7 linked regions of the Homo sapiens genome follow. The protein of the gene in region 6 purifies or fractionates together with the protein of the main gene of each other region. This does not show direct contact. Each region holds a gene or a part of one and is shown on either strand. Other genes may lie near its edges.

Region 1 (4,016 bases), on a different chromosome or scaffold from region 6:
AAGAGGTGTCCATAATAGCTTAGGTGCAATTCTGCTTATTTTACATTTTACCCCCGCTGACTGCCACTTTTTCTTCAGCCCTCACACATTGTTTGTGCAGGGACCTCATAGGACCAGGAATTGTCTATAGAGGTGGGAATTTGTCTCACCCTGAAAGGGATACCTCTAGCATGGTAATAGTCTTCTAGGATTTGTTATCATATGGAAAGATGTAAAGGGAGGGATTCTGCTGCTGCTGCTGCTGCTGCATGCAGTTGCCATTTCATTTAAATGACTTATTTATAATTGATGACACTTTTCTGGCTTCCTGTTAATTCCTCCCTCAAAGATCAATAAACCAGAACCAGGCATGGTGGCATGCACTTGTGGTCCTGTAACCACCCAACAGGTTCACCTTGCCTGCTGTCTAGATAGAGCCAATTATCAAGACAGGGGAATTGCAAAGGAGAAAGAGTAATTTATGCAGAGCCAGCTGTGCAGGAGACCAGAGTTTTATTATTACTCAAATCAGTCTCCCCGAACATTCGAGGATCAGAGCTTTTAAGGATAATTTGGCCGGTAGGGGCTTAGGAAGTGGAGAGTGCTGGTTGGTCAGGTTGGAGATGGAATCACAGGGAGTGGAAGTGAGGTTTTCTTGCTGTCTTCTGTTCCTGGATGGGATGGCAGAACTGGTTGGGCCAGATTACCGGTCTGGGTGGTCTCAAATGATCCACCCAGTTCAGGGTCTGCAAGATATCTCAAGCACTGATCTTAGGTTTTACAACAGTGATGTTATCCCCAGGAACAATTTGGGGAGGTTCAGACTCTTGGAGCCAGAGGCTGCATTATCCCTAAACCGTAATCTCTAATGTTGTAGCTAATTTGTTAGTCCTGCAAAGGTAGACTTGTCCCCAGGCAAGAAGGGGGTCTTTTCAGAAAAGGGCTATTATCATTTTTGTTTCAGAGTCAAACCATGAACTGAATTTCTTCCCAAAGTTAGTTCAGCCTACACCCAGGAATGAAGAAGGACAGCTTAAAGGTTAGAAGCAAGATGGAGTCAATGAGGTCTGATCTCTTTCACTGTCATAATTTCCTCAGTTATAATTTTTGCAAAGGCGGTTTCAGTCCCAGCTACTTGGGAGGCTGAGACAGGAGGATTAATGGAGCCCAGGAGTTTGAGGTTGCAGAGAGCTATGATCACGCCACTGCACTCCAGCCTGGGTGACAGAGTGAGACCCTGTCTCTAAATAAATAAATAAGTAAATAAATAAATACATAAATAAAATCAAGATGGTGTGCAATTAGAATTGAGCGATTTTGTTTCCAAACCTCAAGAAAGCTTGGTCTTGCTCTGTCCCAGGTGGCTGGATAAATTGGGCCTGTCAGCCCGAATGGGAATAGAAGTGGTGATGAGGCAAGTATTCTTTGGAGCAGGAAACTACCATTTAGTGGATGAAAACTTCGATCCTTTACCTGTAAGTGACCATTATTTTCCTAATTCTAGTGGAGTAGATTAAAGTCAACTCAGGACCTCTGGTGTTAACCTCCTATGAACAGTCAGTCCTCTCAGTAACTAGCCAAATCATGAGATGATGAATTAGAAGGAGCCTTAGATAGCATCCAATCTAACATTTTTTTGTGTGTTTGAAGAGAAGAAATCAAGAGCTAGGAATAACTTTTTAAAGGTAAGCCATTTGCAGTATAGTGTGGATTTTGTTTAAAAGGGGATAATTTGAAATTTTATGACTCATTATACAAGACAAAATAAGTTGGATTTTCAAATGTTTTACAAAGTAAATCAAAGTTATAATTGCCTACAGTACGCAAAGCTTCAAAACATTTTTTATGTTATGAAATTGTAATTTATTTAACCTTAAAATGAGCCAGTACCATGTGTTTGCTTAAAAATCTCATGCTAAGAATTTACTATGTTGTTAATAATCTTCAAGATATTTATGAATAAAGTCTTATTTCTAATCCTTCCTCCAACTGTATCTGGTGCTAAATCAGGAAATGTTTCTTCCCAAAAAGCCTCGTGGAAGATCTGTATGTCTAAATATATGTCAGGGATAATACAGATGTAGCCCTGAGAAGCATGACCTTGATTTTTATAGTCTAAAATGTCATTTGCAGATATATATTTTCTAAGAATAATTCCTAAAAGAATTATTTGAATGTTGTAGGAAAGCTAAGAAATTTTGCAAAGAGCGTACGTGAAAATATAAGCTAGGCTTTTGTGGTTTGTGGATAGACTTCCCAACAAAATTGCTTTTTATCTATAGTGATCCAAGCTTGTGGAACATATTAGTCATCTTTTTTTAGAAAATTCTTAGAAAAGTGATCTTGCAAAAATGGAATTTATCTTTCCCCAAGTATATTCTGTCATGTATAGAGTTAAACTAAGCATAGTAATTTCACCAGACAAACATTCAAAATCTACTCCTGACCTTTTTATCTCATCCAAATTTTCCCAGGGCCCAGACATAAACCTTTGCCTTACGAACTCTTTGTATATGCACTAAATATGCTTCTCCTTCAAGGTTCTCAGTCAGCTAGAAAAATGTGCAAGAGTAAATGGTACCCTTCTCACTTGTAGATCCAAGAGAATTAGACTTAAACTCACTCTACATGTCTGTGACTTTATTTTATTTGCATGACAGTCCTGTGAGGTGGCAAGGCAGGTATCTTGGATCCATTTTTTAGATAAGGAAGTTCAAATTGAGAAGAGGTTGCATGATTTACAGGAAGCCATACTGTAGTCCTATGTTACTCTTAAAAATCCCATTCAAATCCTGCTTCTGAGGCCTGCATACTTTCTACCCTACCAGTCATTGACCCATGCTTATGTCTCCTTTGAAAACATTGATTCCACTCTTGTCTCCAGTGAAAAAGTGGAATTTAAGCAGAGAAACAAAAGCCATTTGTCTTGTTAAGTCTACTTTCCCTCTACTTTCAAGAAGGAAAGTTGGGGTATGTGTTGAATGGTGATTTATTTATTTATTTATTATTTTAAAAATTGATACAAGGTCTTACTGTATTGTGCAGGCTGGTCTCAAACTCCTGGGCTCAAGTGATCATCCCACCTCAGCCTCCCAGTGTTGGGATTACAGCATGAACCATTGTGCCCACCACCGATCCGCAGTTTTTTAAGAAAAACTTTTACTATAGAAAATTTTAATCATATACAAAATACAGAGGAAAGTATATGAACCCACTTTAGGAGACTAGAATATGCCACCCCAAAATATGCCACTTTGGCATAAGGATTATTTCGAGCTAAAGGCAACTGGGAAGAAACACATAGAAGAAAAGTTCTCTGTCCTTCTCCATTTGCCTAAAAGCAGGACATGAATCTTAAAAGTCCCCCTCCTTCCCTTTCTACCAGGAAAAACAAGAGTTAATCACTGAAGATAACTTCAGACCCTTATCAGTGTAGAGATGGCACTAGAAGAATCTATATTACATACTCATTTATTTTCCTTCCCACAACTTGCCACCCCAGAGACTAAAAATCCTTTTCCTTTGTCATGTCTCTTGTCCAAAAATTTGCTCTATAAGCTGGAGTTCTAAGCCACCTCTTTGAGAATTACTTGTTCCCTGGTATTTTCTGTTAACATACATGTATTAATATACATGTTAACAAGCTTCTGTTTGTTTTCTCCTGTTTTCTGTCTTGTTACAGAGGTCCATCCCAACTAAGAACTAAAGAGTAGGAGGAAAATATAATTTCCTCCTGCATACTTTGATCTTGTTTAATCCGTAATCCTTCCCACTTTTCACCTCCTACCTATTAGATTACTTTGAAGCAAATTTCAGATATATTACTTTATCTATAAATATTTCAGTATGTGCTAGGTGTGGTGGCTCACACCTGTAATCCCAACACTTTGGGAAGCTGAGGCAGGAGGATCACTTGAGCCCAGGAGTTCAAGACCAGCTACGGCAACAAAAAATCAAAAACTTATCTGGGCATGGTGGCACATGCCTGTGGTCCCAGCTACATGAGAGGCTGAGGCAGGAGGATCGCTTTAGCCCAG
Region 2 (4,016 bases), on a different chromosome or scaffold from region 6:
CAGCTCCAGAATGAGTTATAAGGAAGTATCGCAGTGGCGGTGAGCAGTACTCGTCGCATAGTAACACACCTGGCAGGTCTTCCCCAGGCCCATCTCATCTCCCAGGATACAGCCATTCTGACAATGGAAGCGCTGGGCGAGCCAGTTTACTCCCTCCAGCTGGTAAGAGCGTAGGTGAATCCCTAGAAACAAAAAATACAGCAAATCCGAAGAGCAGACATTTCAGTACATGCAGAGGCAATGTTCTAAGAGTTTGAATGAGGAACACAGCCTAAATTCACATAACCCTAAACCTCACTGGACGTATCTTTTGCTGAGGAGTTATGGATATCTAAACATCTGCTGACTTCCAAACTACTTTTTGAGCAGACTTATTCACCTTTATATTCAAAGCCCCAAAGTAGCCTGTCATTGTTACCTGATTCACTTGATAAATGAGAAAGTCAACTTGGGATCTGGCCTCTATACTGCCTGAGACTCACACCAGTGTCCATTCTGGGAAATGAGGCATTACTGATGCAACTTAACAAAGAGCAACAACACATGGATTGTACATGTGTCTGCTTGTTTAATTGCACCCATTTAAATATGCCATCAATGCTAAAGGAAAAAACTTAGGACTACACTGAATAATGCTTCAACACAGAAGCGCTGTTTTTAAGAATGGAAATGATGTTTCACAAAGGGTATTTAACTGTGTACAGGGATGGCAGAAAACGTGTGAAATTAATACGGAACTTACTCTCTTTTCTCTTTCCCTTGGTGAAAAAAATCCAATTTCAAAGAATAGCCATATCTTGGGAAGGTGAAAGACCTTAAACATACTTTATATAAGAACTATTAGCAAAAACATAACTATCTGGTTTAACTTATACCTTTAAAAAAATCTTCAAAATACATAATTGTACAAAATTTAAAAAATAAGTTATTTTTCTTAGGCACTTACAAATACCAGAGTAGTAGTAAACACTTTACATAAATTACAGTATCTCACGCCTGTAATCCCAGCACTTTGGGAGGCTGAGGCAGGCAGATCACCTGAGGTCAGAAGATCAAGACCAGCCTGGCCAACATGGTGAAAACCTGTCTCTAATAAATAATACAAAAATTAGCTGGGTGTAGTGGCGGGCACCTGTAATCCTAGCTACTTGGGAGGCTGAGGCAGGGGGAATTGCTTGAACCCGGGAGGCGGAGGTTGTAGTAAGCCGAGATCGCGCCACTGCACTACAGCCTTGGCAACAGAGCGAGACTGTCTCAAAAAAATAATAATAAAAATAAATAAATAAATTACAGTATCTCATTTAATGCTTATAATGATTCTATGGAGTAGGTATTATCCCCATTTTATAATCAGAAAATTCAGAGATTTCTGTTTCTGATGGGAGTATACTTACTTTCCCTTATTCCTCTTGCTAAGTACAAATAAAAACCCTAGACATGCTACAGAAAACAAGCATAAAACTCTGAAAGGTGTAGTGAAGAAGCAGACTGGCTAGGGACCTTGGGCCTGCGGAAGGCAGGGTAGTAAGTTCCCTGGAATTTATTTTTGCTTTATATATCCCAGTCTGACAGTTCAAGAAATCAGCCAACTGGAAACACCAACTGATGTAGACCAAAACCAAAACAAATAAGAACACCTCCCAATATTAGTCTCTTCTCATGCTGCTAATAATACCTGAGATTGGGTAATTTATAAAGGAAAGAGGTTTAATTGACTCACAATTCCACATGGATGGAGAGGCCTCACAATCATGGTGGAAGGCAAATGAGGGGCAAAGTCACATCTTACATGGCAGCAGGCAAGAGAGCTTGTGCAGGGAACTCCCATTTATAAAACCATCAGATCTTGTGAGATTTATTCACTACCATGAGAATAATATGGGGGAACTGACCCCATGATTCAATTATCTCCACCTGGCACCACCCTTGACACGTGGAGATTATTACAATTCAGGGTGAGATGTGGTTGGGGACACAGCCAAACCATACCACCCCCACCCCTCACAAGCCTGCTCCAGCTAGAAAATGGCAGCCTAGCAAGACAGGAAACTTTTATATAATAACTGCTCTATTCTAGTAAACACCACAGGAATAAACCTGTGGTCCCACCAGCAAAGGCTAAGTGGAAAGCATAGACTTCTACCTACAGCTACAACGAGTGCCCCAGCACCCCAGCCAGGATGGTATAAGAGAAGGCCAAGTAGGGAGCTGGGATTTTTATCCCCACCAACCAATAACGAGGCCCTACCCCTTAGCTTTCCCCTGCAGGATCAGTAGAGACTCAGGAGGGAGCCACAACTCCCACCCTCACCCAGCAGGATGGAGGAGCCCCTTCCCAATCCCCAGATGTGGACAGAGGCTGAAGGGGGAGCCTGGACTTCTATCCCCACCTGGCACTAACAAGGCAGCAGACCCTCTTCCCCTGCCAGAGCAGCATCAGACAAAGACAGTCAAACAGGAGGTTTAAACATGATTTAAAAAAAATGCCTGGCTCCAATTCTTATAAAAATCATTCATTATATCAAGAACTGGGAAGATTTCAAACTGAACGAAAAAAGATAATCAATAGGTGCCAACACCCAGATGACACAGACGGTAGAATTATCTGACAAAGACCTTAAAGCAGTAATGATAAAATGCTTCAACAAGTAGTTATGAATGCACTTGAACAACTGAAAAAAACAGGAAACCTCAGGTAAGAAACAGAAATTTCAGCAAAGAAATAAAAGATATAAAGACCAAAGGGAAATTTTAAAAACTGAAAAATAATATAACCAAAATAAAAGGCTACTGATGCTGTTGATGGGATCAACAGCAGAATGGAAGGAAGTGAGGAAAGAATCAGTGAACTCTACAGAATAGAAGTTATAGAGAGATTACAATCAGAAGAGAGAGAAAGCAGACTGAAAACAAATGACCCTCCGGGACCTTCAGGACTACCACAAAAGATCTAACATTTGTTCAATGTTGTCCAATAAAAACAGGTGAAGGAGGATAGGGCTGAAAAAGTACTTAAATAAATAATAGCTGAAAACTTCCCAAATCTGGCTAAAGAGCTACAGTTTCAAGAAACTGAGTAAACCGCAAACATAACAAAACATTGCCGGGCGCGGTGGCTCACGCCTGTAATCCCAGCACTTTGGGAGGCCGAGGCAGGCGGATCACGAGGTCAAGAGATTGAGACCATCCTGGCCAACATGGTGAAACCCCATCTCTACTAAAAATACAAAAATTAGCTGGGCGTGGTGGCGGGTGCCTGTAGTCCCAGCTACTCGGGAGGCTGAGGCACGAAAATTGCTTGAACCCAGGAGGCGGAGGTTGCAGTGAGCTGAGATAGCGCCACTGCGCTCCAGCCTGGCAACAGAGAGAGACTCTATCTCAAAAAAAAAAAAAAAAAAAATACACACCAAGATATGTAATTATTAAAATGCTGAAAACAAAAGACAAAGAAAATATCTTAAATGCAGCCAGAAAAAAAACAAACAACACCTTACTTAAAGAGGAAAAACTATTCAAATGCAAGCAGATTTCTTGTCAGAAATCTTAAAGGCCAGAAAGAAATGCCACAACATGTTTCAAATATCGAAAGAAAAGAACTGTCAATCCAGACTCCTGTAATCAAGAAAAATGGTATTCAGGAATGAAGAGGAAATTCTCAGATGAAGGAAAACAAAGAGAATTTATCATCAACAAACCTACCCTCAAAGAATGGCTAAAGGAAGCCCTTGGAAAAAAAGGAAATGATAAAAGATGGAACCTTGGAACATCAAGGTGAGAATGCAGCATTCAAAAACGTGTAAATACAATAGGTTTTCCTTTTCTTGAGTTTTTAAAATTATGTTTGACCGCTGAAGCAAAGATTATAACAGTGTCTGATGTGGTTCTAAAGGAAATATTTAAGACAATTATAAACAAAAAGTAAAGCTATAAATACAAAGGGAAGATAGATATACAGGGAAGTAATGTTTATATAAAGGGAAGTAATGTTTCCATACTTTACTCAAATAAGTAAAATG
Region 3 (4,016 bases), on a different chromosome or scaffold from region 6:
TGCTCCTCGGCCACCTGCAAGTCGTTGTTGGACGACGCCAGGCTGGCATTTTTTGCCTCCAGCATGTTCTGCAGGTCAGTCATGGCTCGCTCCAGGTCCCAGCACGACTGCTTCAGGGTGTCCACCTCCGAGCTCAGCGAATCCTGCCGCTGCTGGCTGCTGTGGCTGCACTCCACCTGCGCCTGCAGCTTCGTGCTGAGGGCGGCCAGCTGGGCCTGCAGCTCAGCCTTCTCTTTAAGTGCCTGAAAAGATCCCAACAACCACAATGATTTTAAGAAAACGAGTCACTTCCATCCAGTGTATTAACAGGAACACAACCAGCGAGTCAGTCAGGGCCTGACAGGGGACCCCGAGACCCCCAGGCGCTCTCCCAAGGCCTGACAGAGGACCCCAAGACCCCCAGGCGCTCTCCCAAGGCCTGACAGGGGACCCCAAGACCCCCAGGCGCTCTCCCAAGGCCTGACAGGGGACCCCAAGACCCCCAGGCGCTCTCCCAAGGCCTGACAGAGGACCCTGCCCCGAGACCCCCAGGCGCTCTCCCAAGGCCTGACAGGGGACCCCGAGACCCCCAGGCGCTCTCCCAAGGCCTGACAGGGGACCCCGAGACCCCCAGGCGCTCTCCCAAGGCCTGACAGGGGACCCCGAGACCCCCAGGCGCTCTCCCAAGGCCTGACAGGGGACCCCGAGACCCCCAGGCGCTCTCCCAAGGCCTGACAGGGGACCCCGAGACCCCCAGGCGCTCTCCCAAGGCCTGACAGGGGACCCCGAGACCCCCAGGCGCTCTCCCAAGGCCTGACAGGGGACCCCGAGACCCCCAGGCGCTCTCCCAAGGCCTGACAGAGGACCCCGAGACCCCCAGGCGCTCTCCCAGCACAGCCGTCACAGAAAAAGGCGACTTTCCAAACAGGCCCAGGACGCACAGGGAGCCTGCACTGGTTTTGGGCCCAACTGCACCTGCACAGGGCAGCGCTAGGGCAGGGCTGGGGAAGCACCCGTCTCCTGCGAGGACACTGGAAACGTGTTCAAAACACCAAACGTGTACACGGGTGCACATGTATGCGCACACACACAGAATGCCAGACGTGTAGAGGGACCCCTGAGAGATTAAAAGCGGATTCAGATCTGGGGGGAAATGGGCAAAAAACACAGGCAGGGAAAGGCGGCTGCCTAAGTGCGGCTCCAGCCAGAGCCACGGGACACAGCACAGTCCTGAGTGGCCACCGCAGTGCTGTGTGGTCCCAGGAGCAGCAGAGAATCGCCAGAGGAAATCGCCCCACCACCTGCCCCCACGCTGAGGCCTACAGGGGCAGGGATCCAGTTCACACATCACCAAGACAACAAACACCCAAAGCAATTGAGGAACTCCACAAACTCCAGGAGACCCTAGAGCAAGGGGCCAGCAACCACCACACCTGAAACAACCCTCACGATCTTGGTGTGGATGCAACCGAAGGACCAATCAGTGATCCTAAGAGGATAAGAAGACAAAGTGCAGTGACAGCAAGCCACCGTTCGAGAGAGTGGCTACACAGAGGAGGGGAAATGCATCCGACGGAGGGAGGCTCACGCTGTAACACTGGAGAAGTGACGACCGTACAACCAGAATTAGCCTCAAAACAGCCGAAATCACCTCTTCTGTAGACACAGCTTTAGGTGTCACAAACTGGTTGGTTTGTGTCCAAGGACCATGTTGTATGAGAAAACCATCTTCGACATGAGGCGTGCATTTAGCAAGGCAAGCTCCGGACACTGTGAGCAGCTCCAGCCCTGCTCTGCGGCCTCGCAGGCCACAGGAGGCTCCCTCAGCTGTGTCACCTCAGGGCCTGGGTGCATTCTCACCCTCCCACGCCAGAAGCGGACAGCTGAACCCCACTGAACAGATTTACTCAACTGCCGACAGAAGATAAATACCTAGCTCTTCACTGTGGATAAAGTGCATACGACAAAATGACAAAGGAGAGCTGAAATAAGGGATGGAAAATGATGTTTCTGGCACATGCTAACCAAGCCAGCGTGTGCAGCTTTCTCTGATACAGCACAATTAGTATCAGAAAAAGCAGAAATCACTACAAAGAAAAAAGGTTCACCATGCCAGAAAAAGCTGCAACCCACCAAGAGAATTTGACTCTTATGGACTGTGAGACACCTAACATCTAGCAAATATTCTGGTAGAGACGCAGGGAGAAACACGCCCATGCACGATGAGGCAGAAAACTCACAACTCTTTCTAAGGCTGACAAGTAGACAAAAAACGTAAAGATGCAGAACCCTCGGCTGCCACACATGCTGCGGCGGCTGATTCCCAACCACATCTGTGAAACCTCGTACCCAACAGAGGAGCCACACATGCTTTCCGACTTCGCCGCACGCTGAGATGTCAGTCGAACGTCCGTTACCTGACTCGCCTCCAGTGACAAGGCTTCCAGCTGTCCTTCGAGTCGCATTTTCTCTTTGAGCACCTGCAGCATCTCCTCCTGTGTTTCTGCTGCAGAGCTCTCCAAGGACACGCTGGGGACAAAGGCACGGGTCAGGCCTGTGCGAGCCATCCTCATTTTCTTTCACACTCCTCCACATTCTCCAAATTCCACACACCCCTGCTGCTCTCTCCCAATTTTTTAAAATTAAGTAAGAGATTTAAGTAGAGAGCTGAGGCTTGCATGATGCACGGATGAACATTCCTGCCAACAGTTGGCACCTCACGCAGTGGGAACTGTTACAGAAACATGAGACATGCAAGCGTCGTGCAGCTTAGTGACAAGTCTATGTAAACGGGAGACTGGATATTTTAGTAACACAGACCATTGCTGATCTAATTCTACTGATTAAAAAGCAGCAGACTTGTTATGAATTAAATGTTCATGTCAAGACTAAGGATAGAATCAGGAAGAAAAGCTGTGTATCACCTGTTCCAGTGCGGAGAGCCGTGGGCCCGGGAAGCAACATCTCAGGCCAGGCCCTCTGCCTGCCCTGCCCGTCTCTGCCCACCCCGCCCCCTCTGTTGGCCCCACCCACCTCTGCTACCGCCCCACCCACCTCTGCCCGCCCCACACCCCCCTCTGTTGGCCCCACCCACCTCCACCCACCCCGCCCACCTCTGCTGTCCCCACCACCTGCTGCAGATGCTGTCTCTCCGACTCCGCACCTCCCCGTTGACCTCCTGCCCCTGGTCTTGGTGCTCAGCGGCTGCGGCCTGGAGGACGTCCTTAATGGAGGGGAACTGGCCCAGGGTATCCGCAGGAATCTCCTGGCCGTTGACCATATAGGGGGTGTCCTGCGTGCCCACTGTCTTCGACAGAATGCCATAGGTCCCTCGGGTGGAGGCGCTGCTGTACGATGAGCTGTCGCTGTCATTTCCATCCACCTCAGACACGCTGTCTCCAGCCAGGGAGGTGTTCTCCAGACGGTCGTCAGTGTCGGGGGACAGGCTGATCTCAGACACAACGGACGCCGCACTGCTTCTGTTCTGCTTCAGGGAACCCTTGGTAGAATCGGGAGCCGGGACATTTCCCCCAGAATTCCCCGCATTTGAATCTTCAGTTCTGTAATCGGCCAGAGACCGGATTTTGCTTGATTTGGAAGTTTTTTTCTCCCTAGGATGTGCCGGAAGCCCCAGGCTGCCCACCTTAGGCCCCCGAGGGACACTGGTGCGCAGGAAGGAATATTCTTTTGTCATAGCCAGGGTACTGGCCCTTGGTAAGTTTTCTGGGTTTAACATGAGCTCAGGATCAAGCGTGCTAAAAAGTCTCGTTTTGGTTGCAGGTTGACTGGACTGAGAAGAAAACAAAAGTACAAAAATTACATTTAAAATCCACAAGCAGCATACTTAAAACTGCCATTCAGAAAGGTGGCACCGATCACTACTCCCTCCGCTGACAACCAGAGAGCACCACCTCCCCAGCCCCTCACCACACAGGGTGCGGCCAGGCCTCCGATCCGTGGTGGTCTCACTGCCGCAAGGCCCCACTCTAGTGACCAGCATGACCACCTCTGGTCTAAAGCACACTCTTCAGTGACTG
Region 4 (3,904 bases), on a different chromosome or scaffold from region 6:
TAGAAGAAAATTCATTCTGCTTCTCAGCACAAATTATGATTTTAAACACCAAATTTAAAAGTTAAAACTTTACATAAAGTAATGCCAGATGCTATCATATCACCGGTTTTAAGCCAAATGTTAATCATTCAGAAAGGGGAGAAAGAGACAAATGCTAGATATATTTTATTCTATTAATGCAAAACAAACTACCATTGCTGTTTCATACTTATTTTCTCATTATATAAAAAGTAAAAACTTATTATGAGAACACGGTGATATGTCTTGGCATGCAGCGTGGTGCTCATGGATGAAAGTTCTTATTCTTTGGTTTATTCTTCGGATTAAACTACCATTTCCCACTGCAGTTTCTGGAAGGTGTTAATAGGAATTATGTAGAAAAAGATGTTCCGTGGTCAATCATGTTTTTGAACCAATGGATTTCTTTACTGTGGGTCTTCGAAGAACCACTATTATGTTAATGTGATTCTCCAGAAGGATCTTCCTCTGTGCCTCAAATGGTGAGGCACTGTAATATTTGTTACATAAAAAAGAAAATAATTAAGAAAAAAAGCCCAAATTGTTGTTGTTGTTGTTTTGATGGCAAGAATCATAACAAAAGCAATTATAAGGCAGCTAGGAGAATACTTCTACGAGTAGGTTTAAGGTAACCCAGAAATCTGAAAATCTGAAACTTTCCCATGCCTTAAAATCTTTTCCAAGACGAATAGTATCTTTTAAGGTCTCCTGGCTGTTTGGTAGCATTTGTCAGGTACACAGATTTTACTGAACTTTTCTAAAAGAGAAATTCATTCAATTAAAAACCACACTTGGCAAAACTTTAAAAAAGAGACACTGTGCTAAAAGCATTTTCTGAATTTATTTTTGTGTTTTTCAAGTCAAGATTAAACTATCTATGTTTTCAAGTCAAGGCTGAATTATAAATGAACTTCTCAGTATTTAGATACCAGAATAAAAAGAACAAGCAAAGGTTGTATAGGATATCTGAGTTTTTTTTTTTTTTTTTTAATCTGAACAGAAAATAAGTATACAAGTTCGCTAAACAGAAGTGGTAAAAATTGAATGTTATGTATTATGGAATTCAGTACATCAGTTTACTTCGGTAGCCAGTGATTGTTATAGTTAATTCTGCAAAAAAACAAAACCAGTTATGCAAAAACAAGAGTACAAAATGCCCCTTTCTGAAGCTCAGTTTGAGAAACTGATTTCGTATCTAGCTTATTGATTATACTCAGTTTCAATTCTCCCTGTGCAAATAATACATAAAGTCATTAATGATGATTTGATGAACTGAAATCATCTTCGCTTAGGATCGTTTGACATCATAACCCAAATATAAAAAAGTTATTCAAGATTCACAGAGATAAAACAGTGCCTCGGAAACATAATTCACCCATGTATATATAATAATTTTAGAACATACTTTTTAAACATAAAATCACAGTCAAAGACAGTGATAGCATTGCATACTCAGTGCATTATTTCATGTAGTGCCTTCCTATGGCTCATTTGGAGTTTAATACCAAATAACCACCACACTTCTAATGAATGGGCTTCTAACACACACAAATTTGTCTAATTCTCTTAAAAATCTAGAACTCTTATAAGACCTTGAGCCTGGCATGTTAAGGACTTTGTGTTTTAATATCCCAAACATTGGGAAGATTAGGTGTGATACATGGTAACCCCTCCTTGTAAGCAAGACTGCACATATACTTTAAACAACTCAATACTGCAGACTGAGAGGGGTACATTTATCATTTAGTTAAGGAAAACCAAAATGGCTTTTCCTGGAGTCAAATGCACTCCAAGACACACACAAGGAATGAGTATTACTGTGGCAGCTAAAGAAATCTGCCACTGTATAATAAACGCTGTTATGCAATGATGTTAAACATTTAAATAATACATTATGATTTGTTTCCAACTACCACAGGGCACAGGAAAATGAAACTGAAGACTATCTTGCTAGAACAGGACAAATGATGACCCAGTTTTAAATAGGGTTCTTCACTGAAGGAAAAGATAGAGCCATAAAAGTCCAATTAGCTGACTTCGAATGGTTTACATCCCAGGATGAATCAGGTTACAGTGATTGAAGCCCAATTTAATTTAGGCAGGTTTTTAACCACAAGAATAAGGACATTCTTAGTACATATTATTAATTAAACCAACATATACACAATTAGCAATATCCTATATAATATTAAATGTTTTAACAACTTGTTCTCCATTATTCTGTATCTAGTTAATTTGTTGCTTTGTTTTTTTTTTTAAAAAAAACTAAGCTCAACTTTATTTTACAATGTACTTTGCCTTTCTAAGTATATTCTGTAATTATTTCACTGAAGCAGGTATAGTTCTCCAGATTTCTCTAAGAGCCAAACTCAACTGTATCTTCTGTTATCTGTTTGAATTCATAGTTGCCTCTGCCATCCATATGCAGGTAGTACTATGGGAAAGAAGGGGGAAAAAAAGTCAGTAACTAAGAGTGAATATAGTACTGTCTTTTATGAAAAGTAAAATACAGACTTCCTCATTATTTTAAGGGAGCTAAATCTATAAGCATCCCACAAATCAGAATGCTTCCGTAACTCCATGACCAAGGATCTCAGCTACCAGTAGGTTAAACTGTGCTAAATGCAAGACTGTTCCATAGGTCAGTCAGTATTGTTTCCTGTAGCCTGATTTCCTAATCAGCTTGAAATCTCCAGCTTAAGGCTTTTTATTTGTTTTTAATTTAGTAGAGGGGAAAAAGAGCTATAAAAACTGCCGATATATCCTAACCTCTGAAGACACAACAGCAGTTACAAAGCCTTCTGTTTTTATTTAGTGGCTTATTTTCAGAAAGCTTTCTGAGTTTCCATTTTCTGTATTACTATTTCTTAGCTATCCTGGCCCCTCACATTCTAGTTGTGTTCCCCTCCTTCACATGATCACTGGCGTGATGATTATTTTGCTACTTGTCTATACCTCCAAAAGAAGAGGAAGGGTGAAACCCAAATGCTCTCAATTCCTCTCAATGTCCTATGGCTATAATACTTATGAACTTCCGAGAAAACATAAAGGCTTGGCTATATTTTAAATGCCTTTGATTTCTAGTTATTCAATTTCCTGCTCAGTTCATGAAAAATTGACAAGTTATAATATGCCATAAAATAATAAAAGCTATCTTTAAAAGTCACACAGTTATATAGAATTTCACTGAATTTTATTAAGTACTTTCATATAGGCTACCTGTCTAATTTTCATGGTAATCTAAGAGATAGGAAGGTAAGGCTCAATAACTTCATTATACAAAGGAAGCAACTGAGGCTAGAAACTTTGGTGCCTGAACCCAGGCTCTCTGACTTCAAATCCTATGCTCTTCATTTTATCACTTGTAGACTATCATCTACATCCTAAAGTTCTTGAAGGTAAAAACTGTAATTAATTTGCATCCCTCATGACACTTAGCTCAGTATCTGGCAAAAAAAGGTCCTTAATCAGGTATGTATTTTGTGGAACAAGGCACCTTTACCATTATTCCAATTTTTCTCAAATCCTTGCTTTTACCTAAAATTTCTATATCATTTAGGAAGGAAAAGAAGGAAAGAAGAGAAGAAAGGAAAGAGGGAAGGGGGAAAGACAGAAAGGAAAGAAGAAAAGAAAGGAAGGAAGAAAGGAAGGGAGGGAGGGAGGGAGGAGGAAAGAAAATAAAGAGAATTAAACTGGGTTTACTTTCAGGTTTTGAGCATTTCACATTGAGTTGAAAAGAACTGACATAGTGAGAATGGCACTACTGAAGCACCAGAATAAGTAATACACGTGCACCAATGTAAGCCTCATTTGAATATCTTTGTAAATTATAGTGACTATCTAATGAATCCTACTTACTACAGTACATTGATAAACATAGCTTATG
Region 5 (4,016 bases), on a different chromosome or scaffold from region 6:
CATGGTGGCTTACGCCTATAATCCCAGCACTTTGGGAGGCCAAGGTGGGTAGATCACCTGAGGTTGGGAGTTCGAGACCAGTCTGGCCAACATGGTGAAACCCCATTTCTATAAAAATACAAAAAATTAGCCAGGTGTGGTGGTGTGCGCCTGTAGTCTCAGCTACTCAGGAGGCTGAGGCAGGAGGATCACTTGAACCTGGGAGGCAGAGGTTGCAGTGAGCCAAGATTGCACCACTGCACTCCAGCCTGGGTGACAGAGCAAGACTCCATCTCAAACAAAAAAAAAAAGAGAGAGAGAGAGAGGGAAGGGGAGTGTGGGAGGGCAGGAGGGCAGGTGGGTACAAAGGAAACCTCAGTGGGGGATAAATATGTTCACTGTCTGGGTTGTGTGAGAGCTTCGCAAGGGTGTATGTACGTCAGAACTTACATTCTGCATTTTAATATTTGCAGTTTATTATAATTGGACCTCAATAAAGCTGTTCAAGTAAGGCAGGAAAAAGCAAAGTACGATGAAAACCTTCTGGCACTTCACTTCTCAGTGTCATCTCCGGCTGTCAGCAGGCCCTGAGGAGGAAAGCAACCAGAACTTCCTCCTGGTAACCTCTCTGCTGGTAGCTTTTCAAAAGTGCACTGGAGTGCCTTGTGCTGTTGTAGCCAACTTGAGAGATCACTACGGACCCACGTGGGTTTTTTTTGTTTTGGTTTGTTTTTGTGGGTTTTTTCCTTTTATTTTAGCTTCAGGGGTATATGTGCAGGTTTGTCATATAGGTAAATTGCGCGTCATGGGGGCTTGGTGTATAGATTATTTCGCCACCCAGGTTAATAAGCATAGTACCTGACTGGTAGATAGTTTTTTTATCCTCACCCTCCTACCTCCCTCCATCCTCAAGGGGGTCCCAGTGTCTGTTATTCCCTTTTTTGTGTCCATATGTACTCAACATTTAGCTCCCATTTATAAATGAGAACATGTGACATTTGTTTTTCTGTTCTGTGTTAATTCACTTAGGATAATGGCCTCCAGTTCCATCCATGTTGCTTCAAAGGACAGGATCTTGTTCTTTTTTATGGCTGTGTAGTATTCCATGATGTATATGTACCACATTTTCCTTATCCAGTCTATCGTTGATGAACATTTAGGTTGATTCCATGTTTTTGCTATTGTGAATAGTGTTGGAATGAACATACATGTTCACATGTCTTTATACCCATATGTTTTTAAGATTAAATTAGATAGATAGATAGACAATTTGTATATGTATATGTATGTGTGTTTCACATACATATTTCCTGTCTCTGTCTGCTGAGAGGACCTAAAAGCAATGATACACAGCATAATTAGCACCTAGTGCCCTGATCTTGGAATCTAAATATCTTTCTCCACTAAACAGCCAGGGCTCCTTGGAGACATGTAACTACATGTTGATGGTGTTGGATTTGAAGACCAGCTAAGTTGGTCTTCAAACCCCATACCACCAACATGGAAGCAAACCAGTGTCACATTTGTCCTAAAGAGTTGAGGAGGGAAGACACATCATCTTTATTCCTGGAAAAAAGGTCAACCTAAATCAAAGAATGAGGAAGCATCAGAAAAACGCAAAATGAAGGACTTTCTGCAAAGTAATTGGCCAAATATCAAGGTCAAGTGAGACAAAGAAAAACTGAGAAACCATCTCAGGTTGAAGGAGACTAAAGAGACAGGACAAGTAGATGCAAGGCAAGAACCTGGATTTGGTCCTGGAGTGGGGAAAAAAAATAATTGTGAAGGACATTACTGGGAAATTAAGGGCATTACAATAGGTGCTGTGAATTCGATGATAGTGCTGCATCCGGATTAAATTTCCTGATTTTGCTGACTGCATTGTGGTTTTACAGGAGAATGCCCCTGTTCTTAGGAATTATCCCCTGAAGTATTTAGGGGCAAAAGAGAACAGTGTCTTTGGCATATTCTCAAAGGATTCAAAAAATAAGCAAAAAATGCAAAAAATTAATGAAAACATATGTATATAGAGAGAAGGAGAATAATAAAGCCAGTAGGACAAAATGAAAACAATGGTTTGGGTGAAGGGTTTATAAGCATTCTTTACACAATTTTTCACTTTTCAGTGAGCTTGAAATTAGATACAAGTAAGACTCACAATAAATTTTTAGAAGAGAAAAAAATATTTTGGCAATTGACCCTAAGACACAAGAAAGCCTGGAACAGGACTGTGTCTGAAATAAAAATGAGTAGCCCCAGCCTCCGGCCGTGACCTTACCCAGCCACCTGGGCATTCACCGAATTTCACTGCAGCCCTCTGGGGGCCAGGAAAACACTGACATTTATCTGAAAAATGACTTTTTTTGTTACAAAAGTAACACACGTGTTTGCAGGAAATTTGACAAATACAGAAAAGCCGAGAGGAGAAAATCAAAATCACCCGTAATCTTCCTACCCTAAAATAACCACTTTTAACTTTCTGTTGTTTTCCCTCCCAGCCGTGTTTCTATGCATTCGTACACTTTGAACTTTTATTTTCTTTTTCCCACCTAACGGATTATGAACATTTCTTTCATCATTAAACATTCTTCAGACAGGTGAAGGCATCAGCTACCTGGCATTCCGACAGGGGCTGTGCCCCAATTCATTTAAACATTCCCCTCTGTGGGGCAATTCACCTGCTTCTAACTTCTTTTTATAGTTATTTTGAAATATTTCTCAGGTGAATGAAAGATGCATTTTCTTCAGAAAGGTTGTATTCTGCCCCTTTCCTCCTAAGCCGAAGAACCAAGAACTTTCCCCAGGCAGTATTTCTGAACGGTTCTGACATCTTCAGCTCTGTGGAGTGATTGCTTCCTGCTTGGCATGACTCCAGGTGCCATCAAGAAGCCCAGTGAGCCTCTGTTTTGAAATAAGAAACTCACCCAGCAAGCAGAAAAGCAGCCACTTTGGAGCTGAGCATTACTCTTCTTTTTTTTGCCCCAGATGAAAAATGCCCAGTTGAGTTTGGAAGACCTCAACTCAGCAAATTTTATTTTATTACAGCTTGGGGAATACGGAGGTTGATTTTTGAGATATCAATTAGAAAACACTTTATATATGTTATATATATATATATGTTATATATATATGTTATATATATATTTATATAAATATATATATATGTTATATATATATTTATATAAATATATATATATGTTATATATATATTTCTAATACCCAGGGCTTATGTCACCTCCTTTTTGCTTGCATGAAAGGACTGAATATTAATCATGTAATACCTGAGAAAAATTCCCAAAGAAAGAAACCACAAAAAGAAGAAAGAATGGCTTTGTTATAGTGAGTGACAGCAAGTTTCAGATTGGAAATAGCAATAGATGGTAACGACATTGGTAAGAGTTTGGAAAAAAGGCCTCCACACTGCTGTGAGGAGTATAAATTTATGTGATCTTTTTGGAGGGTTAAGCCATATCTGTCAAAATTTACAAAGCACAACATCTCTGACTCTGCAGCGCATCTGCTTGGAATTTGCCCTACTGGTATTCTCACAAAAGAACACAAGGGTCCAGGTATAGGGATATATGTTGGAGCAGAACAAAAATTGGAAAACAACTTAAATATTCAGCAATTGGTAATATTATGACACATCAATCCAATAAACCATGTGTAGCCAATAAACAAGGATGGTCCTCATGCTGATAGAAAAGAGGTCCTCAAGACTATAAGATTAAAATGCAACATGTAGGAAGACTTATGTTGTGTGATCTTTAAAAAAAAAAAAATAGAAAAAGACATACACTGCACTGCTCACCAGCACCGAAACATTTTCTGGAAGGAGACTGAACCACTGTGACCAGTGGAAAATGAACTTTCATGTTTTCATTTAGATTTTGCAAACTATTTAAATATCTTACCAAGTGTGTAAAATTTTATTTTAAGAGCTGTCATAAAAATAACTTGTCAGATTTAAAAAAAAAAGAAGAAGAAGCCCAATGCTCTAACGTTCAGCACACCTGTTTACAAAACTCATCTAGAGG
Region 6 (4,506 bases):
GGAGGGGAGACAAACACAGCTAAAGAACTGGAGAAGATCTCAATTCCAGGGCATCTCATGAACCCCAAGCCAAGGCCCTCCCGCTCTTTCACCCTCCTGGCTTAGGGCAGCCCCTTACTCCTCTTGTCGTGTTTGTGATGCAGGGCATTGGCTTCTGCCTTCATGCTGTAGTCCAGCTGCATGAGCAGGGGCTCCAGGCGAGTGTACATCCTCTGGATCAGCTCATGATAAACCACCAGGGGCCACAGCAGGATACTCAACACTATGGGTTAAGAACGTGAACTAAGAGCTCCCTACGCCAATTTCCTAAGAGCCCCCATTCAACTGGTCCCTAAACTGAAGTGCTGAAGGTAGGCAAGGTCCTTTCCCAAGGCTGTGCCAACCTCTTCTTGCCACATCCACTGCCCTCCTCCCCAGGTAAGTCTTCCACAGTTACTAATACTAAAGCATCCCTGGAGATCTCCACAAATCAGAAACTGAGCAGAGAGAGCATAGTCTTCCCTCTGGGTCAGTCCAAGGAAAGAAGAAAGGAGAGGGCTTTAAATAGGGCAGGGACAGACCCTACTCACAGACAATGTAGGAAATCATAATCCCTGGAACATAGTGTCCCAACACAGCCAACACAGCACAGCCAGAGCAGACTCGAACGCAGAACTGCAGAGAAGAGCAAAAGTCTAAGAACATCACGCTGAGATATGCGCCCCGCTCGGCTGGGTAAGAAACTACTGCTCAGCTGGTAGAAGGATGGGTATGTACTCAAGGAATGGGGTGGTCCAGTTTGGTTAAGAGGATGCTCAAGACCACCAATTCAGGAAGCTGGCAATACATAATGCCCACCACCTGTAATTCACACTGGTCTGCCTTGGCAGGAGAAAGTGTCAGGCTATCAAAAGCTTATTTCCTGAGGTGAGACTGCCTCCTGCACCAGGGATTAGCTGTGAATGTTGCCTCAAGAAGGCGCCCAGGCCTCTTCTTTCAGGGTCTCCAAGCGGGGAGTTTATATCACTCCACTCCCATCCCCCGCCACCTCTATTCCCCTTCAGTGTAGTGAACTGTTGTATGATGTAGGGGAGGTTACCTGAGCTGGATTCTGCCTCTTGTACTGCAGCAGCTCCTGCAGGTGAATCTGGAAGGTGAGCCAGCTCTCAGCCAGGTATCTGCACAACTCGGGCACACTCAGCAGGTGCGGCCGGGCGCCTGACCCCGCACCCTCACTGGGGAGACATGACATGACCCCTGGAGGCCTCAGATACCAGCTTCCTAGACACTTAAATCCCTCTGAGAATGCCAAAGATATCTTTAGTCTAAAAAAGCAAATGACCCCACCTCTCAAAAGGAGGCTGTCCTGGTCTTAGAAGCAAAGCCAGGAGGACCCAACCCTCTGCCCCAAAAGGAGCAGGCACGCAAACACCTACACAGGAGCCTAGGACCATGAAAAACCCATGGCTTGTTACCAGTTCATTCACAATGCTGGGGCACTGCCCTGCTCCATGGTGACACTGGCACCAGCAAGCAGGACAGGATGTGGGCATTTGTCTTCAAGAGGTGGCCTGTACTCACCTGTCAGAGTGTGGCTCCTCTGGGGATGATGCTAGAGAGAGAGGAGGGGGGCAAATTATTGAGTGGTAGGGGCCCTGGGAGACACTCCCCAAGGCAGAAATAGTTGTCCCTCCTCTGCAGCCCCAGAGCACCTTCTTCAGATGCCAATGGGGGAGCTGTTACATGTTTTTGTTTGCGTCTGTCTCCTTTAGACATTACCCTTCTCCAACATAAGAACTAGATTTTACTCATGCTTATCTCCCAAGCAACTCACATACAGCCTGTCACCTACTAAGTAAATTATATGGATAACAAGAAAAACAACACTGACGTTCTATTTATAAGGCTTATATGTGAAACACTATCATAAGTATAGCATGTGTATTAACTCATTAATCCTCTCCTCACCTCTCTATGAAGTAAGTTCTATCATCTGTGTTTTACAGATAAGGAAATTGAGACAAACAGAAATTGAGCTACTTTTACAAGGTCACAGCAATGGTAAATGGCAGAACAGAGAATGGAACCCAGGTAATATGGCTGCAGACTTCACCATCTTAACCACTGCACCTACAGTAGTATTAGTTTGGGAAAGGGGCAATTCTCATTTTAGGGAATTCCGTACAAAAAGGAAGTGGGCCATGCCTGGGAGGCAGGTGGCCTGCTGTACGTTCCCCTCGCCACTTAACCCCACCCAGCGGAATCAGGCACCAAGCAAGTACCCAATGGGTGCTTACTGAATGAAGAAACACTCACCTGAAACGTCAGGGAGAAAGCGAGGCTGCCAGAGATCCAGCAGAAAATAGGCCAAAAGTGAGACGCTGAGTAGGAAGAAGGGCCGGAGGGACGAGGAAGACAGCAACCTTAGGGAGAGACAGGCACCTCAGCAGTGAGTGGGTGAGACAGGCTCATGCATCCATCTCAGAAGGTGGAAAGGCGCCTACTGATGGGGTAATGGCACCTCCAGGCCTAACTCGCGACTCACGACTCAGAGATAGAAAAAAATGGGCAATTCAAGCGGATGTCAGCCTGCAAAAACTGGGGATGGGTCATGCCCCCAGGCCAAGTGATAACCCAGAAAGGGGAATGGTGCTCTCGACCCCTCCCTCCCCCGCTCATCCCGGCCCCGCCCCCTCCTCCGCGGCCGTTACCAGAAGAGGCCGTTGAGCGCGGCCGCCGTGACCAGGCTGTGCAGCGGCTTCTCCCACACCAGCAACCGCTGCGCCGCCGCCAGCACCGCCTCCCAGCCGCGGAGCCGCAGCCACAGCGTCGTGGCCAGGCGTCCCACCGCCTCGGCCGTGGCCGCCTCCTCCTCTGCCTCACTGGTGGCCTCACTCATGCCTAGGCTCAGACCCAGACCCAGGCCCAGGCTCAGGCCCATCCCCGGCCCCCCACCCGCGCCAGTGTTACCCCCGCCACCGCCGCTCGCCATAGCCCCGCCGCAGCCGCCGCCCGAGCCCGCGAGGAGCCAGGGCTGCGCGGCCGCCGCCGGGGGCGCGTCAGGCGGAAGGGGGCGCCGCGGAGGACAGCAGAGGTTGCGGACGAGCGTCACGTGACTGCGGAGCGCTGAGCCCGTCACGTGACGCGGCCTAACCCCCCCCCCCCCGGATAGGGCGGGCCGCGCATGCGCCCCGGCGGCTGCCGCTGACACTGCGCCTACACAGGTTCGTTTTCTGGTTGACGAAGTACCCCGGGTTCCGAGTCCGGGTCTAGGTCCAGGCAGTCGAGCCCGTTTTCTTATCCCACAGTAGGCAGGGCGGCTAGGGAGTGTGGTGCTGCCCCGGTATCCCCGTGTGGGGCAGGAAGTGGGCTTCCAGATTCCCAGTATCCCCGGTAGGGTCTGCTTCTGCTCGCTCGGGAAGGGCGGTGGCCGTCCCATTACTCAACCAACCCTCAACGCACTGGTCCTCCCAGTTCCCTCCCCTCAGTGGGTAAACAAACACACACCAGCGCTTGACTCGACAGACTCGAAAACAACATCTACTCAGAAAAGTTGTTTCTTTCCTATCTCCTTAAACTTTCCCACTTCCACATATCGGAGCTTCTTCCCACCTCGGCCTACTCAAGCATGAGATCGGAGGCGGGAGGTGGGTTTCAACACAAAACCTTGGGTAGATGCAGTTTACTTTTGGGTGGACGTGTTGACACGTTTTGAGGCCTTACATTCGCTTAAGATCACAGAATTTCCTCAGTAGCCTTAGGTTTAAAAGTTCAAATTACAGTAAAAAAAAAAAACACCCTGAGTTTCTCTTCCTTTTCATAGTTCACCCACTGCTAAATTTCCTGTGTGTCCTTTCAGACGCTTTTCATATGCATTGCTGAGTATGTATAATATCTCTCCTAAAAAGCAACTGGGAACAACTTCCTGTTGTGCGTTTCGTCTTATTCACATTAACTTCTCCATTGCTACGCCTGGCTTGTTCATCCTCAGTGCGGCGTGGTCCCCCCTACGAATTGTCCCCATTTCTCAGAGGCGCCTGGGGCTTGGCCACGTTCCGTGAGACCAGGAGTTCGAGTCCGGTTCCTGCCCGCGGGTCGGGGCGGGAGGCTGGGCCAGATGGGCGGCAGGAAGTGCCAGGCGCTGACTTGCAGGCGGCACCCCCGCGGCTTGTAAACGCCGGGCGGACGCGGCACAGGCGGAGTACGCGCCTCGCAGCCGCATCTCCTTTCTGCTCCGCGAGGTGAGCGTCGCACGGACGCTTGACACCTCCCTTCCCGGGCCTAGGGCCCCCGCGCGCCGCGCCAAGCCCGGGGCGGAACAGGAAGAGGCGCCCAGTTCAGCCCGGGCCCCGCCTTCCGCCGCCGGGGGGAGGGAGCTGCGAGGGCGAGGGCGAGGACGGCGGCCCGCCCCGGGGAGGCAGGCTGGCAGGTGGACAGGCGGGCAAGGACAGCTCCGCGAGCCCCCTACAACTCGTTTCCTTCCGTTCACCTTCGCAGGGCGGCGACTGGCGGCGCGATGGACCTGAC
Region 7 (4,712 bases), on a different chromosome or scaffold from region 6:
AGAATTCCAAGTTTTAGGAACTGCTTTTGCAAGAAAGACTGAACTTGTCCTCCAGTCCATTGCATGGAAAAAGGGGAAGAGTACCTGGAAACGGATCTTGATGACGTCGAAGGGACTGATCAGCGCCCGAGTAACAAGTCCAGACACAGACCCAGCCACTGCCACCTGGAACTTGGTGTTATTCCTGCCATCTGGTTTGGGGTCATAGCCAACCATCCCTGCCTCTGGCCCACACAATGTCCATCAGTATCAAGCTAAATGCAAGAGATACGGAATAAACACCAGGCAAGTTTCTTATGGTCTCTGCTCAAATATCACCTCCTCAGAGCAGCCCTCCCTGACTAGACTGTCTAAAATAGCACTCACTTTTGGACTGGGCGCAGCGGTTCATGCCTGTATCCCAGCACTTTCGGAGGCCGAGGTGGGTGGATTGCTTGAGCTCAGGAGTTCAAGACCAGCCTGGGCAACACTGCAAAACCCCAACTCTACAAAAAATACAAAAATTTAAAAATAAAATAAAATAGCACTTGTTTTATTCCTCTTTACAGTACTTATTACTATGGCATATTTGTTTACTTTTTTAGAGACAGGGTCTCACTCTGTTGCCCAGGCTGGAATGCAGTGGTGCCATCATAACTCACCATAGCCTTGAACTCCTGGGCTCAAGTGATTCTCTTGCCTCAGCCTCCCAATTAGCTGTCACTTAACAGGTGCAGGCCTGGCTAAGTTTTTTATTTTTGTAGAGATAAGGTCTCAATGTTGCCCTGGCTGGTCTCGAACTCCTGGCCTCAAGTGATTCTCCTGCCTCAGCCTCCTGAATTGCTGAGATTACATGCATGAGCCACAGCGCCCGGCACGCCATGGGTTATTTATACAGTACATTTGTTTCTTGTCTCTCTCCCTGACTAGAATGTAAGCCCGTGGAAACACGACCTTGGTCTCATTTGTTCACTCGTAAATTTCCGGTTCCTGGAATAGAGCCCATCATGGTAAGTGCTTAATAATATTTGAGAATCGAATGAACAGGCTTGATAGGCAATTGTTGGTCCCAGAGATCAACTGGTTTTCCAAGACATCTGGCAACTTTATAGCAAACTCCTGCTCACTGAGTGAGCCCACTCAAGTGTAACGCTGAGGGACTGAAGGACGTGCAGGGCTGGAGAACAGGGATTGGGATTCTTTAACAATCCCCCACTGTCCAAAGGAAGAGCCCTGAGGCCCTGAGCCCCTTCACCTTTCCCTTTCCCCTCCTGCACACACCTCAGACCACCCCGGCACAGTGGGGCCATGCTACGCTAGCAAATGATGCTCCTGGCCAGGCACCGTGGCTCACGCCTGTAATCCCAGCACTTTGGGAGGCCGAGGCGGGTGGATCGCCTGAGGTCAGGAGTTCAAGACCAGTCTGGCCAACATGGTGAAACCCTGTCTCTAATAAAAATACAAAAATTATCTGGGTGTCGTGGTGGGCGCCTGTAATCCCAGTTACTTGGGAGGCTGAGGAGGGAGAATCACGTGAGCCTGGGAGGCAGAGGTTGCAGTGAGCTGAAATCACGCCATTGCACTCCAGCCTGGGCTACAGAGTGAGACTCCGTCTCAAAAACAAAAAAACAAAACAAAACAAAAAAGAAAATGACGCTCCTGGGCTCCCCTGACTCAGACCTACTGACCTCTTCAGCCTCACTCTGGACCACTCTTCCCCTTCCCTCATTTAACCAGAGTGGTCTGACTGCTTCTGCCCAGTTCCTGGAAAACTCGGGGAGCACTCCTATCAATTGCCTTGCCTCTACTCCTCCAGTTCCCTACGTCTGAAATACAGCCCCACTCTCAGCCCCTACTCACTTTTTCAAGGCTAGCTCCTCTCATCCACCAGAGCTCAGCTAAAAAGCATCCCTTCCAGGAGATGTACTTTTTTCCTTTTTTGTAAAAACAAAAAACAAAAACAGTAATACCTACATACGGTCTGTAGAGTTGTACAAAGCATAGAAAGAAGTCTGTAACCACACACATCAACAGGTAGTTGGTAACTGATCACAGGGAGAAGGGCTGAGAAGGGAAAAAGGAAGGTAGACCTGTCGATAATTCTATACTGTTTGAATTTGTTATGGCAAAAAAAAAAAAAAAAAATCCCTAAAACTAGCCTTCAGAATTACCCTAGTTCTTGAATACTTGTAGTAGTGGGGGTGGGGGTGGGGGAGGAGGGGAGATACTACCTACAGGATGGCAGCCTCCACCCCAGACATCAATTCCTTTTCTCCTCTCACCCACCCTGGAACTCCTCCCCAGGCGCCCATGAGGAAGTTTAAACACGCGGCAAGCGACTGAGAGGCAAAACCTCTCCAGGGGTTACCCAGGGACCGCTCAGGTCACACTGAGCAGCGTGTTTCCCGCCCATCTGGGCAGAAAGGAGGAGCAAGCCCGAGTGGCAGGTGTCCTGGATCGCTGTCAGGAGACCGGAGCATACCAGGCTCTTCCTGGTGTTCGGGTGCCCATGTGCCCAAGGGCTCAGCTGAGCAAATCTGCAGAGGTCCCCGTGTGGGTACCTAGGTGTCCACGTGTGCCTCGGGGTGTGTTTTTTCTCCTTGAGTCCGAGGGGACGCCCTGGAGCTCAGGTGCTCAAGGGCGTGCGCGGGGCTCGGCCGCCGGTGTCCCTGGAGATGCTTCTCTGGTCTGGTGTGACACGTGTGTACACAGTCCCCGCCCTCTCGTGAGCGCCCGGGTGCGTGTGCTCCCTCCCGACCACCCTGAGGAGCGAGGGTGCTGGTCCCCGAGAGGGCGGCGAGAAGGACGGAGGTAGAGGTTACTCACACGGCTCGGCGGGTGCGGCCCGGCTCAGCGCTCTCCGCTCTCTCTAGCTCCTCGCGCAGTCTTAACAGCAAAACTCTACTGAGCTCGGACGAAACTGGCGGGCTCCTGGGCCAATCACCGTGCAGCTCCCCGCCAGACGCTGGACCAATGGTTGTGCGCTTGAGGTCTGGCAACCGCCTCCCGCAAGATATCACCGGGTAATGTAGTCCTTCGCGACCAAGGGCAGGACAGCTGGACGGCGCACAGCTTCCTGGGAGATGTAGTCCGGCTGCTCGCGGGCGCGCGAGTTCGACCGACGCGTTAGAAGGAGGTGCCTTGCGAAGCCGGGCTGCGACCTTAGGGGTCGCCGTGCTCTGGCGTGTGACTCGAAAGTCAGCCTGCAGGCGGGGTCCAAGGTTAGGGCGCGGTAGACTTGACCCGCTTTCCTCAAACTCTGTTAATGCCAGAACCCGGATAATCTCAACTTGGTAAAGATGGCAGGAAGCCTAGCAAAAAGCTGGAGGACGTCGGGAAGAGAATAGATGAGAACAGTCCCCTCGGGGACGGGGAAGGCAAAAACACGAGTGTCCCCCCCTCTCACCCCGAGTTTTAGTATTTCTCATTATAAAAGTAATATTAAAAGTATATAGACAGAAAATATAGAAAGGAAGGAGGAAATGACTCATCCTACCGCCCGCACACAACTAGCGTCACGGTTTTGCGCGACAGTATTGCCTCCTGACTTTTTAATTGCATTTTTATATTCGTGTTATCATTTTGACGCACAATTTTAAGACATTTTTATTGTAGAAAATTTCAAGATACACAGAAGTGGAATAACCCGATGAAGCCGCGTAGAGTCGCTCTCCGACCTCAGCAGTTACGCGACTCATGGGGCAATCTTGTTTCCTCTATTTCTGCACCTACCTCGCACGCGCTGCCCAGCGTTATTCTGAAGTAAATACCATCACGTGTTTTCACCAGTAAATATTTCAGTATGTGTCTTTAAAGGACAAGCATTCCCTTTTTAATACGTATACATTATGCTTCACACACACACAAAACTGTCACTCCGACCCCCCAAAAAAACTTTTAATATCAAATATGAATTAGTGTTTACACTTTTCTGAAAGAAAGAAATGTTCTTCTTTTTTTTTTTTTTTTTTTTTTTTTTTTTTTTTTTTTTTTTTTGAGACAGTTTTGCTCTTGTCGCCCAGGCTGGAGTGCAATGGTGCTATTTCAGCTCACTGCAACCTTTGCCTCTGGGGTTCACACGATTCTCCTGCCTCAGCCTCCCGAGTAGCTGGGATTACACGCGTGCACCACTATGCCCAGCTAATTTTTTGTATCTTTAGTAGAGATGGGGTTTTGCCATGTTGGTCAGTCTGGTCTCAAACTTTTTTTTTTTTTTTGAGACAAGAGTCTCACTCTGTCACCCAGGCTGGAATGCAGTGGCACGATCTCGGCTCGGTGCAACCTCCACCTCCCGGGTTCAGGTGATTCTCCTGCTTCAGCCTCCTGAGTAGCTGGGACTACAGGCCTGCACCACCATACCCAGCTAATTTTTGTAGTTTTAGTAGAAACGGGGTTTCACCATGTTGGCCAGGCTAGTTTTGAACTCCTGACCTCAAGTGATCCACCCAGCTCGGCCTCCCAAGGTTCTGGGATTACAGGTGTGAGCCACCGTGCCTGGCTGAAATGTCCTTCTTAAAACAAGTTGTTTGCTTTTCTTTCTTTTTTTTTTGAGACGGAGTCTAGCTCTGTCCCCCAGGCTGGAGTGCAGTGGCGCGATCTTGGCTCACTGCAAGCTCCGCCTCCCGGGTTCACGCCATTCTCCTGCCTCAGCCTCTCCAAGTAGCTGGGACTACAGGCGCCCGCCACCACGCCCGGCTAATTTTTTGTATTTTTAGTAGAGATGGGGTTTCACC

What was found.
Region 1: the proteins of RETREG2 (region 6) and HPSE purify together in Homo sapiens (affinity purification with mass spectrometry; one large-scale study listed by BioGRID and IntAct). This does not show direct contact.
Region 2: the proteins of RETREG2 (region 6) and CHD1L purify together in Homo sapiens (affinity purification with mass spectrometry; one large-scale study listed by BioGRID and IntAct). This does not show direct contact.
Region 3: the proteins of RETREG2 (region 6) and GOLGA3 purify together in Homo sapiens (affinity purification with mass spectrometry; one large-scale study listed by BioGRID and IntAct). This does not show direct contact.
Region 4: the proteins of RETREG2 (region 6) and ABCD3 purify together in Homo sapiens (affinity purification with mass spectrometry; one large-scale study listed by BioGRID and IntAct). This does not show direct contact.
Region 5: the proteins of RETREG2 (region 6) and CCR9 purify together in Homo sapiens (co-immunoprecipitation; one large-scale study listed by IntAct). This does not show direct contact.
Region 7: the proteins of RETREG2 (region 6) and SLC25A19 purify together in Homo sapiens (affinity purification with mass spectrometry; one large-scale study listed by BioGRID and IntAct). This does not show direct contact.

Annotation. Positions count from the first base shown.
Region 1 is NC_000004.12:83,303,641-83,307,656, reverse strand, and holds part of HPSE (heparanase isoform 1 preproprotein), read left to right. Parts: intron 1-1,339; coding exon 1,340-1,454; intron 1,455-4,016. UniProt on the Homo sapiens protein: Endoglycosidase that cleaves heparan sulfate proteoglycans (HSPGs) into heparan sulfate side chains and core proteoglycans. Participates in extracellular matrix (ECM) degradation and remodeling.
Region 2 is NC_000001.11:147,248,789-147,252,804, reverse strand, and holds part of CHD1L (chromodomain-helicase-DNA-binding protein 1-like), read right to left. Parts: intron 183-4,016; coding exon 70-182; intron 1-69. UniProt on the Homo sapiens protein: ATP-dependent chromatin remodeler that mediates chromatin-remodeling following DNA damage.
Region 3 is NC_000012.12:132,804,781-132,808,796, forward strand, and holds part of GOLGA3 (golgin subfamily A member 3), read right to left. Parts: intron 3,770-4,016; coding exon 3,111-3,769; intron 2,509-3,110; coding exon 2,397-2,508; intron 243-2,396; coding exon 1-242. UniProt on the Homo sapiens protein: Golgi auto-antigen; probably involved in maintaining Golgi structure.
Region 4 is NC_000001.11:94,515,600-94,519,503, reverse strand, and holds the end of ABCD3 (ATP-binding cassette sub-family D member 3), read right to left. Parts: intron 2,453-3,904; coding exon 2,375-2,452; 3' UTR 841-2,374; downstream 1-840. UniProt on the Homo sapiens protein: Broad substrate specificity ATP-dependent transporter of the ATP-binding cassette (ABC) family that catalyzes the transport of long-chain fatty acids (LCFA)-CoA, dicarboxylic acids-CoA, long-branched-chain fatty acids-CoA and bile acids from the cytosol to the peroxisome lumen for beta-oxydation.
Region 5 is NC_000003.12:45,889,432-45,893,447, reverse strand, and holds part of CCR9 (C-C chemokine receptor type 9), read right to left. Parts: intron 1-4,016.
Region 6 is NC_000002.12:219,176,818-219,181,323, reverse strand, and holds the start of RETREG2 (reticulophagy regulator 2), read right to left. Parts: upstream 3,050-4,506; 5' UTR 2,972-3,049; coding exon 2,691-2,971; intron 2,616-2,690; exon of another isoform or gene 2,403-2,615; coding exon 2,296-2,402; intron 1,592-2,295; coding exon 1,561-1,591; intron 1,215-1,560; coding exon 1,079-1,214; intron 655-1,078; coding exon 570-654; intron 263-569; coding exon 119-262; intron 1-118. Other genes in the region: protein CNPPD1, read left to right, coding at 4,496-4,506. UniProt on the Homo sapiens protein: Endoplasmic reticulum (ER)-anchored autophagy regulator which exists in an inactive state under basal conditions but is activated following cellular stress.
Region 7 is NC_000017.11:75,286,549-75,291,260, forward strand, and holds the start of SLC25A19 (mitochondrial thiamine pyrophosphate carrier), read right to left. Parts: upstream 2,886-4,712; 5' UTR 2,806-2,885; exon of another isoform or gene 2,541-2,805; intron 2,044-2,540; 5' UTR 1,954-2,043; exon of another isoform or gene 367-1,953; intron 255-366; 5' UTR 217-254; coding exon 85-216; intron 1-84. UniProt on the Homo sapiens protein: Mitochondrial transporter mediating uptake of thiamine diphosphate into mitochondria. It is not clear if the antiporter activity is affected by the membrane potential or by the proton electrochemical gradient.